2 separate regions of the Homo sapiens genome follow, and region 2 is linked to region 1. Evidence: fine-mapped expression QTL. A gene starts in region 1. The other region holds a variant in brackets. All regions are shown on one strand. Distances are between the middles of the regions.

Region 1 (4,386 bases):
TTTTGGAGACGGAGTCTCACTCTGTTGCCAGGCTGGAGTGCAGTGGCGCGATCTCAGCTCACTGCAACCTCCGACTCTCTGGTTCAAGTGATTCTCCCGCTTCAGCCTCCCAAGTAGCTGGCATTATAGGCACCCGCCACCATGCCCAGCTAATTTTTGTATTTTTAGTATAGACGGGGTTTCACCACGTTGGCCAGGATGGTCTTGATCTCCTGACCTTGTGATCCACCCGCCTCGGCCTCCCAAAGTGCTGGGATTACAGGCATGAGCCACTATGCCCAGCCCACATTTCTAGTTTTAAAATGGCCAAGGGCATGGTTTGTGGTGCCTCAGGCCCAAAGCAGTTGAGAAAAATCTAGTTTACCATGGAAATAATTGTAACAAGTTTTCCAGAAAAGAACCATGAGTTATACAAGAACCCAGGTGGAGGCAGGGCAGGGGAGAAGCAGCGGGGTTCAAAAATCCTGAGCACACTAGACGGGGACTTAGTAGGCCTGGCTTCTGGGCCTGAATTGGCACTCACTCAAGTTCCAACTTGGTCAAGTGTTTCCCAGAAATAAGCCTCAGTTTTCTCTCCGAGGAAATGACAGCATTGGATTTCTTCTGTATCAGCAAGCTTTGGCTGCATAACAAAGCATCCCAGAAGTTGGTGGCTTAAACCACAAAAATGTATTATTTCCCACAGTGCTATGGGTCAGCAGTTTGGGTGGGACTCCGCTTGATGGTTCTTCTTCTGGTGTCCCCTGGCCTCACTGATGAGGCAGCAACCAGGGGACAGCCAAGACAGCCCAGCCTATCTCCTTGTGGTCCTCCGTCTTCCAACAGGCTAGCCCAGGCTTGTTCTCATGGTAGCCAGGCAGGGGGCTGAGAGCAAGAGCAGGAGCTGCAAGGCCTTTTAAAGCTCAGCCTCGAACATCACGGCACATCATTTCTGCCACGTGCTATTGGTCAAAGAGATGCCCAAGGCCAGCTCAGCTTCCAAGGAAGGAGAAATGGACTTCGCCCCTTGACAGCAGAAGCGGCGGCATAGTGAAAAGGAGGTGAACTTGTAGCTAGCTTTCACATCGGCCGTGATCTCTTCCATGTTCCCTTCATTCATTCATTCATTCATTCATTTGTTCATTCATTCCACACTTGCACACCCTCTATGTCCCCAGCATTTTACCACACACCAGAACACAAAAGGTAACCTTGCCCTCATGGGGCCTGGAGAGTAATGGGGAAACAGATGAATAACTCTGCATGTGTCCTGAAGTTATAGGGAATTCACATTTAATTTATACCTGTTTCTTTACAGCAAAGCTTTTTGCAGAAAGGATTTGAACCAACCTGCCAGAAAAGGCACAAGGAATAACATGATACATTTTAACCAAAGAAGATAATTAAAATCAAAGGAGAAAGTGTTTATTGAGCACCTACTATGTCCCAAGCATCTCCGACACATCCTCTCACTCCATGGTTTCCATATCCCCGAGTTAGTGTTATTCCCCTTTCAGAGATAAGCAAAGCGAGGCTGACTAGCCCTAGCTGAGAGTCAAACAGCTGAGTCAGGCCCCAAAGTTCACATGACATCATAGAATAGCTGTCGATGAGCTTTGGATTTGACGATGAGTTTCCCAGCAGCCTGGGGGAGAAGGAAAGTGGAACATATTACCCGATTGTTCACTAGACAAGAAAAAGCCAGATATTTCTTTGAAGGGAAGCAAAGCCCTTCCTAGCAGTGAATTCATTTGTCTCTTCTCAAGTGGGAGTTGGAAGAGAGCTTGTGGGGTGGAACACAGGGGGCCCTGCTAGGACTGTCCAAGTTGGGCGCTCCTATGGCATATATGTGAGGAGGCTGCCACGTGAATGCCCATGGTCCCCTGGAAAATGTTCGTCCTCAGTGAACATCGCCCTCGGTGTCTGTGCATGTGTACGTGTGTATGTGCATATGTGTCTGTGTGTTTCTTTCTGTCTCACTGTCTTTCTCTTTTTTATCTGGCCCTCCCCTCACTTCATCTGTTTGTTTGTTTGTTTGTTTGTTTGTTTCCACCTCTGTCCCTCCCTGGCAAAAGTCCCTGCTGCTCAAAACTCTGCCAGTTTTTAGGAAGTGCTGTTTTGTCAAAAGCCTGCACACGAGACCCCCGTGGGCCAGGACTGACTTCCTCCCCACACAGGGCTGGGCGGGGCAAGCAGGAAGGAGCCTGTTACAGTCAAGGTGACGCATCCTTGCCGGGCCAGCCCGAACAGCAGCTGGGTCGGCAAGCGACAGGAGCACGGGTCATCTTTTCCCCAGAGGCGTCGGAATGGACCTGTGCCACCCAGGTAAGCAACTGCCGTCAACCTCTCTGGGCCTCAGGGTGCTCTCTTTTAGAATGGGACAGCAGCCCCTGCCTCACAGGGTCCTAGATAAAGGAATACAGCGCAGGTGGGAAATGCAGCTGCAAGAAGCAAACATTTGTGGGCTCAGCCTGTGTGTCCAGTTGCGTTCTAGGGGCTGGACACACAGCAGTAGCAAAGCAGACGCTGTTTCCCCCTTCATAGGCTTGTGCTCTAGATGAGGAGACCGGCAGTGACTCTAATGTGATTCCATATGTCAGTTGATGGCAGGTAGGATGAAGAACAGTAAAGCAGGGTAAGGAAGACAGGAATGCATGGTGGAAAAGGCCCCAAGAGGAGATGCTGTCTGATGAGGGACCTGAGGAAGATGTCAGCTAAGGGGCTTTCTAAGGAACAAACATTCCAGCCAGAAGGAACAGCCAGTCCAAAGGCTCAGAGGTGGACTCAGAAAAGTGACTTGCGATTAAGATGATGATGGGATGTTGGTGATGGCGATGCTTGTCTGGGTGATACAAGGGCCTTGAGGCCCCTTTTTGGCCCCCGGGGGTTGGGGTGGTCTTTGGGGAGGCTGAGGACGCTGCCTAGAGCCAGGGGAGGGCCAGGAGTGAGCAACAGAGGCTCTGGTTGAAACCCTCCCCAGCTACTAAGACAATGTGTCTGGGGAGAAAGAGGAGAAAGGAGGCTGCAAAGATGGTGAGGAAAAGAACATCAGGGTCGTGTTTTGGGAGGCAAATTGAAGGCCCGGTAGAGGGGCCAAGTTTCTGCACCCTGGATGTCAGCATGCTCCAGAGCTGCAACAGTTCTGGTGAACACGGCTGCTGGAATTCCAGAACCTAAGGGCTCGTGGGAGCTGTCTGCTCCCCAGGTCCAGATGACCTCAGCCTTGTCCAGGAGCACCCTTGCTTCAAACGCACCTAATGTGGAGCAGCCTGGCCCCGCCCACTGGGCATCCCCCTTCCTCCCCACCCCCAGATGGAAGCCTCGGGCCCCAGGGAACCCAGAGAACCACTGATCCATTTCAACAGCCCCCCCAGTGGCAGAAGGGAGAAAAGAGGCCAAGGGAGGAAAACAGCCTCTCTAAGGCAGGAGCAGGACCAAATCCTGTTCCCTGAATCCCTATCCAGGGCTCACTCTGACCCCTGCCTCTCCCATGGGCTTTGGGGGCTCCCAAAATCACAGCTCAGTGAGCACAGCTTGGGGGCACCTGGTTGGCACAGGGAGACCCAGCGAAGGGCAGCACCTGGCTCAGGCCTCTCAGCAGACATGAGGGTGGGATGAGGGGGGGAGGGCACCCACCGAGATGCAACCCCCCTGCCTGTGTGTCCAGCAGGGCGCTTTGTCCTTTCGGGTCCTAACATACTGAGGTTACAGGGATGGCTGTCTCCATGTTGCAGATAAGGAAACTGAGGCTCCCAGAGGTGAACTAGAGACGGGGACTGACTTGCTTGAGGTCACACGGCCAGTCAGCAGCAGAGCAGGGACGAGAACCTGCGGGAGAGAGCCCCAGGTTGGCCGGGGCTATGGAGAGGGCAGGGGAGGGGAGTCTCTGCTTTGCTTCAGCCGGTACTAGGGAGGAAATGGATTAAATGGGGTCAATGGGTTCTCCATCGAGTAGTTGGTCTTTTCATTCATTCACTCTACAAACGACCTTCCAGTGTGCTATGCAGTGCTGGGGACAGCAGTGACCCAGCCATGGGCCTAACCCTGGGGGACAGGTGTTGGTCTGGAATGTTGGGGGTGGGGTGGAGAGGCAGGAGCCACATCCTGCAGGACCCTGACCCAGCTGTGCAAATGGACACAGACCTACAGATGGGAGGAAGCAACTTTTCCCACTGGGGCAGAGGAGATCTGGGAAGACCTCCTTGAGGAGGAGGCCAGAGGGAGGGAGAAAAGGTCATTTCCCTGTTGCCCAGACTGGGTCTTAAATGGGGCTTCTTCATGGCACGGTGACTTCCCCTCTCTGAGTTCTGATTTGTCATCTCTACGTGGGTGCCATCATCCTGGCCTGGCCTGGGGAAGCGGGGATTGGGAGTTAGCCGGACCTCGCTCAGGTTCCAGCTCTGCACC
Region 2 (4,386 bases), 60 kb before region 1:
ACAAAATAAAAAATAAAAGTAAAGACATACCCAAGGCTGGGTAATTTATAAAGGAAAGAGGTTTAATTGCCTCACAGTTTAGCATGGCTGGGGAATCCTCAGGAAACTTACAATTATGGCAGAAGGGGAAGCAAACGCATCCTTCTTCACATGATGGCAGGAAGAAGTGCCAAGCAAAAGGGGAAAACCCTTATAAAACCATCAGATCTTGTGAGAACTCACGTACTATCACGAGAACAGCATGGAGGTAATCGTCCCCCTCCCCCATGGTTCAATTACCTCCCACTGGGTTCCTCCCACCTGGATTATGGGATTCAATTACCTCCCACTGGGTTCCTCCCTTGGGATTATGGGAACTACAATTCAAGAGGAGATTTGTGTTGGGACACAGCCAAACCAGATCACAGCCCTTGTGGCTGGAGCTTTGCAAGGAAAGGGAAGATAGTGCCAAGTGAGATCTGGAGGTAGAAACTGACAACATCCTATAGGCCTTGTAGGTGAGGGAGGAGGTTTCGTGCCAAATGTCCAGAGATACCACTGGACGGTGTTATACAAGGGAGTGGTCTGATCTGATTGGTAGTTTAACGCGATCACTCTGGCCACTCCGTGGAGATAAACCATGGCCAAGGGCAAGAGTGAAAACAAGAAGGCCAGTCAGGAGGTGTGAGCATTAGGATTGGTGCTCAGTTGGTGCTCAGCAAATATTTCCTTTCCTCCAAGTCTGGGAAGAGTTCCTGTCCCTGCCCCATTGGTGGTGTTGGGCTCGGCCATGTGAAGCATGAGCAGAGGCCTTAAACACCTCATGGTTTGGCTTGGCTTCTCATGCTCCTGTGATCCACAATGAGAAGGACATGCCCCAGGGAATGCTGGTCTAAGGAGGATGAGAGACAGGTGGAGCCGACCCACACACACCCACAGCCAGGACCGAGACCACCCATCCCCAGCCCGAAGCCAAGTCACCAGCCAAACCCTCCTAAGTCAGCAGACCCACTGTCCACCTACAACTAGTGAGTGTGAGAATACAGGCCTGCTGCTTCTTGCCTCTGGATTTCAAGGCAGTTTGGTTTGTTACACAGCATTATTGTACCAATTGCTGACTATGACAGGAGGCTACCACAGGGAGGATACAGTGCTGGTTTGGACATTAGAAACCATGACAATGCAGAGAAGGGGGTCACTGAGGAGATTGTCGGTGATGGGTTGGAAGTGGAAGGTGAGGGAGAAGGTGTCAAGGAGGACTCCCAGGTTTTTGATTTGAGAGCCTGGATGCATTTACTGAGTGATGAAGGCTGGGCGGGGCGTGTGAGTTTGAAATGCTCAGGAGACATCCAAGCAGAAGGGCCATTTCCTGGGGCTCTCTGCTGGCTGGACAGCCTCCCCACTGGCCTGTGAGCTCCTGAGAGCGGGCTCATGCTTGACCCACCCCCAAGCCTTGGGCTTGACACACGGTCTCAATAACTATTTGCTGAAGGATTCAATGATTGAATAAGTCTGTGGTTCTATCAGCATTTTTGACTGCACAGTTGTTTGTAAATGAGGAAAATCCCCAGGCCACCTGGTGGCAAATGGAGTAGAGGCAGAGAGAGGGAAGACAGGAGGCCAGTGAGGAGGCTGTGGCTACTGTCCAGGGGAGACATGGCAGGGGTTAGGTTAGGGAGCAGCCGTGGGGACAAGGGGTGGATTTAATAGACAGAGGCTGAATTGTCCAAGCTTGGTGGCCAGTGAATGCCAGGGTGAAAGGATCGGAGGAGTTTGGGGGACCCCAGGCCTCCGCTTTGAAGAAGGGACAAGGAACAGCCAGTCTCTAGAATAGAAAGCACCAGATGAAGTGGCCTTGTCTGGCAGGCACTTTCCTCAACCACCAGGCCATGATTTCATTGCAAGAAGGGGCGAAGTGAGGCATGGAACCTGCTGCCAGCCCAGGCCTGGCACTAGGTGGGCACTTGGGAGGGGTTGTTGTCACATGAAAGAGCAAACCATGGTGTCAGCTCCTGCCCACAACCGGCAGGTCTTCCTGTTTCAAAACAGGTTCTCA[T/C]TGACTTCCCATAAGCTTTCTCTTTCCTATATGAGGGGCCTCCATCCTCAGCCAATTTGCAGAGCAGAAACAAGTGGCTCACCCCACTTGGAGTGGCTGCTGGGAACAGTTATACAGTGGGAAGAGCACTGCGCTAGGAGTCCTACCGCTTCAGTGACAAATGCTGTCAGCTTACCGTAACAAAAGGTGTGACCAACGGTGACATTAACAATTGGGTGGTTTCATTTTCTTCAGTTCCCATAACAAGGCAGCTGTTAGCATTGGCTCAGCTGCCCACTGCTGCTGCCAGGAACTCACGCTCCTTTTATCTTTCTGCTCATCCCCTCTCAGCACGGGGCCTTGTATCTTCATGTTTGTGGCTTCAAGCTCACAAGACGGCTGCTGCAGCTCCAGACATCCCACCTGTCATTTTTTTTTTTTTTTTTTTTTTGAGTCTTGCTCTGTCACCCAGGCTGGAGTGCAGTGGCGCAATCTCGGCTCACTGCAAGCTCCGCCTCCCGGGTTCACACAATTCTCCTGCCTCAGCCTCCCGCATAGCTGGGACTACAGGCGCCCACCACCACACCCGGCTATTTTTTTGTATTTTTTAGTAGAGACGGGGTTTCACCGTGTTAGCCAGGATGATCTCGATCTCCTGACCTCGTGATCCGCCCACCTCAGCCTCCCAAAGTGCTGGGATTACAGGCGTGAGCCACCGCGCCCGGCCTGGGCCTGTCATTTTTTTAAGGAAGAAAACAACTTTCACAGAAGCCATCTCTCCCGCTGACTTTCATTCACATCGGCTTCTAGGCCAGAACTATGTGGCCTGAAAACCCCAGTGACAAAACCAGCTGGAAAAACGAGTATTTTGTTGGTGTTAGGTACGGTGCTGCTATGCACAAAACTAGGATTCTGTTAGCAAGGAGGATGGGAACAGAGGGAGAGGGTGGGAAAGGACAGCATCTGCCTTGTCAATTTGAGCCAAACCTGTGCCCTCCCGCATCCTCATCTCCTCTTCTGCAAACCGTGGCTAAGAGTACCTATCTTGGAAGGCTATTAGAACATTAAATGAGATAATATGTGCATGGGAGCCAAGACAATGAGTAAAGGAAGTTATTTACTGACATTATTATCATATAGAAGCAAAGATTGTCTCTACTGGGGTCGACCTAACGGGCTGAACACACATGGAAGGAGATCCGGGCCCACCTTTGCCCTGCAGGGAAGTTCCAGGAGCAAAGGAAAGGGGTCCAGTATGTTCAAAGGCCTGGAATGAAAGAAGCATGAATGTGGAGTGGAAGAAATGACAGTCCAGTCTGATGGTAGAGGCACGAGTGCAATAAGAGTGGGAGGCAGAGGATGGCCAGACCTTCAGGGCCATGGTTTGTTGCGGAGGCTCTGGAGTTTATCCCAAGGCTCTGTGAAGAGGAGGGATCAGAAAGAGGCTCCCTCAGACTCTGGCCAACCTCAGGGGGTGCCTCAGGGATCTTAGACATCGAACATACTAGGGAGTGGGGTCCTGGCCGCCTGCATCTGTATGGTGCCATGGATGGGTGGGGTTTAGTATTTCCTTTCTGTTTCAGAAGAGAAGTAACTTTGAAAACATCATGACTTTGAGCTGAAACTAAGAAAAGCAAAGGGGTTTCCCCTCTGCACCTAATCCCTTTTAAGGGGGGCTCCCAGGAGGTGAGTGAGCTGGAGGGGGTCCTGCCTCAGAACATGGGGACTAATGGGGATAGTGGGGTTGGCTGGGAGCTCTGGGAAAGCACAATGTGGAAACTCAAGCATTTCATGGGCTGGAAATTGGGGTCTTCTGGGTTGTCAGGGGCAGCCTCTTAGATCTCTTAGCCTCTCTAGAGTGTCAGCCTCCTGAGGGCAGGGACTTCTGAGCACTGCTGGATCCCTGGCACCTAGAACAGTGCCAGGCACAGAAGAGGTGCTCAATAAATGTGTGTTTGATGAATGAGTGAGAAGTTGAGATAGAGGAGAGTAATTGTCCGCAGGAGGGGGAGGTCTGGCACCTCCACAGAACTTAGCAAGTCCTGAGGTGGGACTGACTGTGCAGGCACTGTTGTGCCCATGTCGGAACTTCTTAAATCCTCACAACAACCCCGCCTCTCTTTTAAAGAAACTCCCCTTTGCTTATCACCTTCGGGGTCCAGCATTGTTTCATTTCACTGCTGAAATGAACACTTTCCCATGACCTCCAGTAGTGGAGGTTGAGGGTTTCTCGCCCAAATTCCCAAATTCCCGCCAGGCTCTCAGCCCACTTTGGAACTCACCCTCCCCCCCAGTACACACGCTTTCGCTGGGGTTGCCGCAGTTCTGTTCCAGCATGGCATATGGTCCATGCCTGGCCAGTCAGAGCACAG

What was found. PIP is the estimated chance that this variant, and not a neighbour inherited with it, causes the effect. A credible set is the group of variants that fine-mapping cannot tell apart.
Region 2: its variant is the best candidate, but not a certain one, in a credible set for the expression of CYTH4 in whole blood (TOPMed, PIP 0.55).

The regions. Positions count from the first base shown.
Region 1 is chr22:37,280,285-37,284,670 of GRCh38, forward strand. CYTH4 (cytohesin 4) reads left to right here and starts at 2,224. Exons shown (of 13, transcript NM_013385.5): 1 at 2,224-2,304. The coding sequence starts at 2,286. RefSeq lists enhancers at 1,983-2,032, 3,579-3,628, 4,241-4,350.
Region 2 is chr22:37,220,562-37,224,947 of GRCh38, forward strand. No RefSeq gene overlaps it. Among named protein-coding and RNA genes, the nearest start is that of SSTR3, 10 kb to the left of the region's middle. RefSeq lists a silencer at 2,222-2,361. The variant T/C (reference allele first, on the strand shown) is at 2,036.